2 linked regions of the Homo sapiens genome follow. The protein of the gene in region 1 purifies or fractionates together with the protein of each later gene. This does not show direct contact. Each region holds a gene or a part of one and is shown in the gene's direction. Other genes may lie near its edges. The genes, in order: INTS9 and WDR73.

Evidence for each region.
Region 2: the proteins of INTS9 (region 1) and WDR73 purify together in Homo sapiens (affinity purification with mass spectrometry; one large-scale study listed by BioGRID and IntAct). This does not show direct contact.

Annotation. Positions count from the first base shown.
Region 1 is NC_000008.11:28,778,372-28,782,182, reverse strand, and holds part of INTS9 (integrator complex subunit 9), read left to right. Parts: intron 1-1,188; coding exon 1,189-1,360; intron 1,361-3,811. UniProt on the Homo sapiens protein: Component of the integrator complex, a multiprotein complex that terminates RNA polymerase II (Pol II) transcription in the promoter-proximal region of genes.
Region 2 is NC_000015.10:84,644,038-84,647,848, reverse strand, and holds part of WDR73 (integrator complex assembly factor WDR73), read left to right. Parts: intron 1-1,500; coding exon 1,501-1,665; intron 1,666-1,763; exon of another isoform or gene 1,764-1,876; intron 1,877-2,012; coding exon 2,013-2,378; intron 2,379-3,811. UniProt on the Homo sapiens protein: Component of a multiprotein complex required for the assembly of the RNA endonuclease module of the integrator complex. Associates with INTS9 and INTS11 in the cytoplasm, stabilizing the INTS9-INTS11 heterodimer and blocking the active site of INTS11.

The DNA of each region.
Region 1 (3,811 bases):
AAGTATGTCAGTATTACCAGAAAGACTTGACTTGCCCATGTGTTCCACAAATCACATTCTGGGTAAAAACTATTTTAATAAGATTCACTTGTATTTTTTTAAATTAATAAGTGTTACTTTTCACAGCAGTTTTAGGTTCACGGCAATCATATGCCCCTGCCCCACACACGCAGTTGCCCACTGCACCATCCCACACCAGAGAGGTGCGTTTGCTACGGCTGATGAACCCACATTGACACGTCACTCTCGCCCAAAGCCCAGAGTTTACAGTAGGGGTTCCCTTGGCGTTGTGCTTTCTATGGTTTTGAACAAATGAACAGTGACCTGGATCCACCATTACATCATCACACAGAGGAGCTTCCTCACTCTGCAGATCCTCTGTGCTCAGCCTGTTCATTTCACTCTCCACGAATCCCTGGTGACCGCTGAGCCTTTTACTATCTGTATAGTTTTGCCTTTTCCAGAACGTCATACAGTTGGAATCATAGGGGCCTTGGCTTTTCAGAGTGGCGCCCTTCACTTAGGAATAGGTTCCTTCATGTCTTTTCGTAGCTTGGCAGCTCATTTCTTTTTTAGGGCTGAATAATATTCCATTGTCTGGATGCATCAGTTTCATCCTTCACCTGCTGAAGGACACATCTTGGTTGTTTCCACGTTTTAGCAATTAGGACATTCATGTGCAGGTTTCTTGTGGACATGATTTTTCAAAATATCTTTCAAAGTGGCTGTATCCTTTTGCATTCCCACCAGCAGTGAATGAGAGTCCTTGTTCTTCCATATCCTTGTCAGCATTTGGTGCTGTGAGTGTTCTGGATTTTGGCCATTTTATTATAACAGGTGTATAGTGGTATCTCATCATTTTAATTTGCAGTTTCCTAATGACATACGGTGTGGAGCATTTTTTCGTATGCTCATTTGCCATCTCTCTTCTCTGATGAGGTGTCTGTTCAGGTTTTTTGCCCACTTTTTAATAGGGCTGTTCATTTCTTTTTGCTGAGGTTTCGGAGTTCATAGATTCTGGGTCACAGTCCTCTCTCAGGTGTGACTTTTGCAGGTATTTTCTCCCAATCCGTGGCTTGTCTTCTTTGTTGGTATTTTAGATCCAGTCCCGCTCACCCTCCCGTACTTTGGTTCCCCCTTCAGCCTGGGCAGGCTCACATTTCTTTGTATTTTTTCTATATTTTCCAGCTCATTCAGACCAATAAGCTGAAGCACTACCCCAGCATCCACGGAGACTTCAGCAACGACTTTAGACAGCCCTGTGTGGTGTTCACCGGGCACCCTTCCCTCCGCTTCGGGGACGTGGTCCACTTCATGGAGCTCTGGGGAAAATCTAGTCTCAATACCGTCATATTCACGGGTAAGTGAAAAAAATAAAGAAACAAATTGGTTCTCTCCACTGAGGCCATGAGTGAATGCACCTACAAGGTAGAGACCCAGGGAAGGATTTTGCAGTGAGACATAAATACAAACATTGTTCTACTGTAGGTACCAAAGAATGAAGAAACCGCAGAGAAAGAGTGAAGCAGTGTGTGCCATTGGACAGCTGGGCATCCAGCGAGGCCTTCATGCCTGTGTTTTCAGATTTCTCCAAGACAGAATCCTGCTGAGTGCTTTTGCTAGGATATCGTAAGCCATTTCAAGAAGTGCAGTGATTCAGTAACGGTGTTGTTTTACCTGTTAGGAATTGTTTACAGAGGTAGATCTTTTTCTTCTGATTGTGGTTTACTCTAACTGTGGATTTTCTTCTGGAGACAAATCCCTCAGGGGAAAAAATTCCTTTGATAAGGTCAAGTAGAGTGTTTACATAGATAATGACTGTATCATTTTATCAGTGTAGCGTGCCCAGCCCTTTGAATGCTAGGTCTTTTTTGCTTATCTGTGATAGGGGATATCTTGGAAATTATGCACAGACCTTTTTTTTTTTTTTTTTTTTTTTTTTTTTTTTTTTTTTTAGCTCATCAGTCATCATTAGTGTTAGTGTATTTTATGTGGGGCACGAGATAGTTCTTCTTCCAGTGTGGCCCAAAGAAGCCAAAAGCTTGGACACCCATGGGTTAGGGTCTTCAGTCGGCCTTGGGTTTTAGAAATCTTACAGGCTATGAAGAAAAAAGAAAAAAAAAAAAAAACCTTGATTTGAAATCTGGCCCAGCTTGCAGCAACCTCAGCCAATTCACCAGCAAGCATGACTGTCCCCACAGTAAATGGGACTGTCAGTAGCTACCTCTGTGGGTCACTCTGGGCACCAGGCACAGAACCCGGCACATGGCGGCTGTTGGGAAAGCACTGTCACCAGCTCCCTTCCTAGCTTTAGGAGCTGGGAATCCAGTTACACCAGAAGCACTGGGGTGACGCTTCAGCCCTTCCCCCAGCTTTCATTTGTGACCTAGAGGCCACCAGGAACACGCCTGTGGTCAAACCAAGTTGGGTTTATTGCCTCATTTCAGCAAGGGGAACACACACCATGGGTAAAAGAAAAGCAAAAAGACCTTGCAGGACTCCGGCTGGTGTTCGGTGATGCGCAGGTGTTCGCGGAGGTGAGGCGTCACCCTGTATTGGGTGGCGTCAGGATGCAGGGTCATTCTGCGATGGGTTTCTTAACTCATTCTTATCTAGAACACAGGAAGAATGGAGCCGGCATAGCGGGAAGTTTGCTTATGCTGTGGTCAGGAAAGTTCTGTGTTCCGTGTTCAGGATGATTACAGAGGGGTCTTGTCTTTGGCCGGATCCATCATTGTCAGACAAGGTGTTGGTGTTCCAGGAAGTTGCGTTCACACAGCAGGAGGACACATGGCTTTGCTGTGGGTGCCAGGCCGGCTCTTGCTGATACCAGGCCAGGCAGAAAGTGCCAGGAGAGGCCCCGGTCACCAGGACTGCTTTCCTCTTCTCAGGCCTGCTTTGGGCTAAAGGTGGAGGAAGTTGGGCCACAAGATATTGATTGACAACACCCAGAACTTCATAGCTGCCAAGATTTCATTAATTAGGAGGTTGTCCAGAGAATGTCCTATGTAGTGGGGCTGAGGTTGGTGTCTCCTGCTCCTGCTGCTGAGTGGTGACTCGACATTTGACATGACAGTGGTGACAGCATCTACACAGCACAGTAGATAACCTGGCCTTTAGTACAAATGTTTCTTCAGCTAAAAGGAAATCAGGACTGTGTGATTTCCTGTGACAACTCTGGGTAATGGGTTTGCATTTAAACTGGTTTATGGGGCTTCCAGGGCAGAAGTTGTGTCTGGGAGAGGTTGGGGCCATCTTTTTTTATTGTTTTGTGACTCCTGGATACATGAAAAGGGGGTCAGTATTCTCAGAGAAGCACAATCCACTGGAATGGGCATTTATGTACCTGGCAGCTCTGCCAGTTTGTCCTGACAACAGTGGAGACGTCTCTGTGTCTGGTGTGCCTAAGCCAGGGTCCCTCGTCGCTGGGCACAGACTGTGCTGGGAATCAAAGTGTCACATCAGTTAGGACCGAGCGAGGTCTTTTGGCTCAAGGCAGGCAGCTCCCTCGAGTTGGGGGAATGTTCCCTGCCAAGCAGGCTGCAGCAGCCCTCAGGAGACAGGCTGAGCAGAGGGCGAGGACTCTTCCCGGTCTGAGGGGCTGGGGCTGCTGGGGAGCATCCCAGTCTCAGTCTACAGACCATTCACGGGCCTGGAGGCGGGGCCGTGCGCTTGTCTTCCGGGTGCATCTCACACCTGGGCGTTAACTCAGAGCTGATTCTAGGTTCCCGGGTCTGTACCAGGCCTCTCCACTGTGAAGTCAGTTTTTCCCATTGTATTAAATCAGTACCTTGTGGGGGACTCTTTGAAA
Region 2 (3,811 bases), on another chromosome or scaffold:
GTGTGACTCATACACCCCTGTCCCCTAATCTGAGCCAGTTAAGAAGGAGACTCAGGCTGGGGACAGTCTCATGCCTGTAATTGTAGCACTTTGGGAGGCTGAGCTGGGTGGATCACTTGAATTCAGGAGTTGAAGACCACCTTGTACAACATGGTGAAACCTGTCTCTATTAAAAATACAAAAAATTAGCCGGGCATGGTGGTAGGCACCTGTAATCCCTGCTACTGGGGAGACTGAGGCAGGAGAATTGCTTGAACCTGGGAGGCGGAGGTTACAGTGAGCCGAGATCATGCCACTGCACTCCAGCCTGGGCAACAAGAGCAAAACTCCGTCTCCAAAAAAAAAAGTAGTAGTAGACTCAGAGCCAGGTGGGAATTAATCTACTTTAATGCAGACAAGGTGAATTAGCAACCATAGCATGGCATCCAAGCCCCAAATGGAGCTTCCTGTAACCTGCTCCTGGAATTGAGTTCATCCAGAGAACTACTCTCCCTAGGCAGGGGCAGTGGCAACAGCAGAGCTTAGGCTGCTCAGGTGAGCTCACCTCTTTGGCAGCATTAAGCATATATTAAGAGAAGCCTCAGATGTAGAATACAGAGAGGAGAACCTCCCTGCTAACCAAGCAGGTGGAGACAACCAAATAAAAACTAAAACTTGGCTGGGCGCAGTGGCTCATGCCTGTAATCCCAGCACTTTGGGAGGCCAAGGTAGGTGGGTCACCTGACCAGGAGTTTGAGCCCAGCCCGAGCAACATGGCGAAACCCCGTCTCTACTAAAAATACAAAAAAATTAGCTGGGCATGAGGGTGCACATCTGTAATTCCAGCTACTCAGGAGGCTGAGGCAGAAGAATTTCTTGAACCTGAGAGGCGGAGGCTGCAGTGAGCTGAGATTGTGCCACTGGACTCCAGCCTGGGCAACAGAGTGAGACTCTGTCTCAAAAAAACAAAAGAACCAAAACAAAACTTGACTCAAAGCCAAGGATGTTCCATTCAGTGTAAAAAAGATGTGGACTTTCTTGTCCACCTTACAAGACAATGACATCTGTAATGTGACCTGTACTTGCTAGGCTTTAGCAAGTCACTCGAGGTCATGGAACATGTTTTTGAAGAAATAATATCAGTTCATGAATTCTGTACCTGTTTCTTGTCGCTGAAGGGGTAAGTGACATCAGCAGCATGTTCATTCCTTTTCTTGTCTTCTACCTGTTCTCCACAAAAGTATAAAAAGCCAGAATTGCTTTTTGGGTTTTGAGATGGCATTGTCTTCCATTTGCAAAAAACAGTTTATAAGACAAATAATAAAGAAATTGAAATGTTTCTGATGGTTTCAAAAATGTAAACATAAGCCAGAGTAGTTATGTCTCAACATCATCTCTTGCCAGCCGGCAGCTCCTTTTCTTCCTTGATCTTCTAAATGTACAGGGGAAGACAGCTGGCAGCCTGTCATGTTTCAAACCTTCATTAAAGTTCTGGATTTTGGCCTCTTCGTTTTCCCCTAGATGTCATTAAAGCTGTCAGCACCATTGCTGTGCATGAGAAAGAGGAGAGTCTCTGGCCTAGGGTGGCCGTCTTCTCCACATTGGCACCCGGAGTCCTCCATGGGGCGAGGCTCCGAAGTCTGCAGGTCGTTGATCTGGAGTCCCGGAAGACCACGTACACCTCAGGTACCGTGGTACTTTGTCCCTTGCTTGCTGCTCCAGCCGGCATCACCCCCCAGCCCAACTCAGCCACTATAAAAACTGAGTTCAACTCTCTGTGCCAGGTGTTGGGGATACACAGTGAATAAGAGGTAAGCCCTGGCCTCTAAGGGCTCCTATGCTGGGGCAGGATTAGGCAGTCCCAGGGACCAGCACCCAACCAGCTGAGCAGACAATGGTGAGATGAGTGGGAAGGGAGATGTGATTTATTCTGCCTGGGACTGGTGGGAAGGGACCTGTGACCAGCCAGCCCTGCCAAATTGCCAGACCCATCTGCCTCCAGCCGCTTGTCTCCTTTGCTGTCGGTCTTCCAGATGTCAGTGACAGTGAGGAGCTGAGTAGCCTGCAGGTCCTAGATGCAGACACCTTTGCCTTCTGCTGTGCTTCAGGCCGGCTGGGGCTTGTTGACACCCGGCAGAAGTGGGCACCGTTGGAGAATCGCAGCCCTGGCCCTGGGTCTGGTGGAGAGAGATGGTGTGCTGAAGTTGGGAGCTGGGGCCAGGGCCCTGGGCCCAGCATTGCCAGCCTTGGCTCAGATGGGCGTCTTTGTCTTCTTGACCCCCGGGATCTCTGCCATCCTGTGAGCTCAGTCCAGTGCCCAGTATCCGTACCTAGCCCTGACCCAGAGCTGCTGCGAGTGACTTGGGCCCCAGGCCTGAAGAATTGCTTGGCCATCTCAGGTACTGCCGAGCAGGATTTCGTCTTGTTATCTGATCTCTTTCTTCCAGGAGACTGTTGGGTGCTCAGGAAGGAGCCTCCAGCACCATGATAAACCTGGCTCCAGGAGTTAAAGTTGCTCACAGAGAAATTCGAACTCTCCAGGTTCTTCAGTGGCAGGCCTTTTCCTACCCTGGCTACTAAACTTCCACACATTGGCAGCAGGCCTTTCCTAGCCTAGCAGGAATTCAGGTCTCAGGTTGGTGGAGGGGCCTGCAGACAGTAAGACACTGGGACAGACATCGGGCTGGGTCAGAAAGAAAAGGGGACAGTGGCTAACACGGTGAAACCCCGTCCCTACTAAAAATACAAAAAATTAGCCAGGCATGGTGGCAGGCGCCTGTAGTCCCAGCTACTTAGGAGGCTGAGGCAGAAGAATGGCGTGAACCTGGGAGGCGGAGCTTGCAGTGAGCTGAGATTGCACCACTGCACTCCAGCCTGGGCAACAGAGCGAGACTGTCTCAAAAAGAAAAAAAAAGAAAAAAAAAAAAAAAGCAGCAGGGACAGCACCTCAAGGGTACTTCTCAGCCTACTTGCCTTTTGAAATGTAGCAAGTTGGCCGGGTGCGGTGGCTCACACCTATAATCCCAGCACTTTGGGAGGTCGAGGCGGGTGGATCACAAGGTCAGGAGATCGAGACCATCGTGGCCAACATGGTGAAACCCCGTCTCTATGAAAATAAAAAAAATTAGCCGGGTGTTTTGGTGCACGCCTGTAGTCCCACCTACTTGGGAGGCTGAGGCAGGGGAATCGCTTGAACCCGGGAGTCAGAGGTTGCAGTGAGCTGAGATGACGCCACTGCACTCCAGACTGGCGACAGAGCAAGACTCTGTCTCAAAAAAAAAAAAAAAAAAAAAAGTAGCAAGCCAGCTAGGTCAGCAGGCCCCTGGTTCTGGTCTGGTGGTAGCTAGTTGCTTGCGGCACTTAATGTGGGTATCTAAAAGCCAACAGGAAGGATCCGTCGAGGCAGGTGGGGGTTGAAAAAAATCATTAAGAGAGCAAGAAAGGATGATTGGAAATGCCAGGATCCAGAAAGAACAGAAGAGCCAAGCTCAGGTAGAGGGGCTGGCTCTTCAGTACCAGGAAGATGGCAGGATGGAATGAGTGTGTGTGCAGCTAGATCGTGCAGGGACGTGAAGGTATTTCTCTCCAAAGGCTTCTGTTTCCCCCATCGAGTAGGAGACAAGGCCATCTGCTGAAAGGGACCCAGAGGTAGGGGACTGGACTCTGGGGCAACTTGAAAAGGTTTGAAGAAGTCTCTTAAGCCTCAGTTTCCTGGGTAAAATAACAGTATCTGTGTCATACAGTTCTGAGGATTAAAAGAGCTAATACTTGTCCAGAATTAGCCTTCGAGCCTCACGCATAACAGGTGCACAACGGATGCTCATGGTTACAT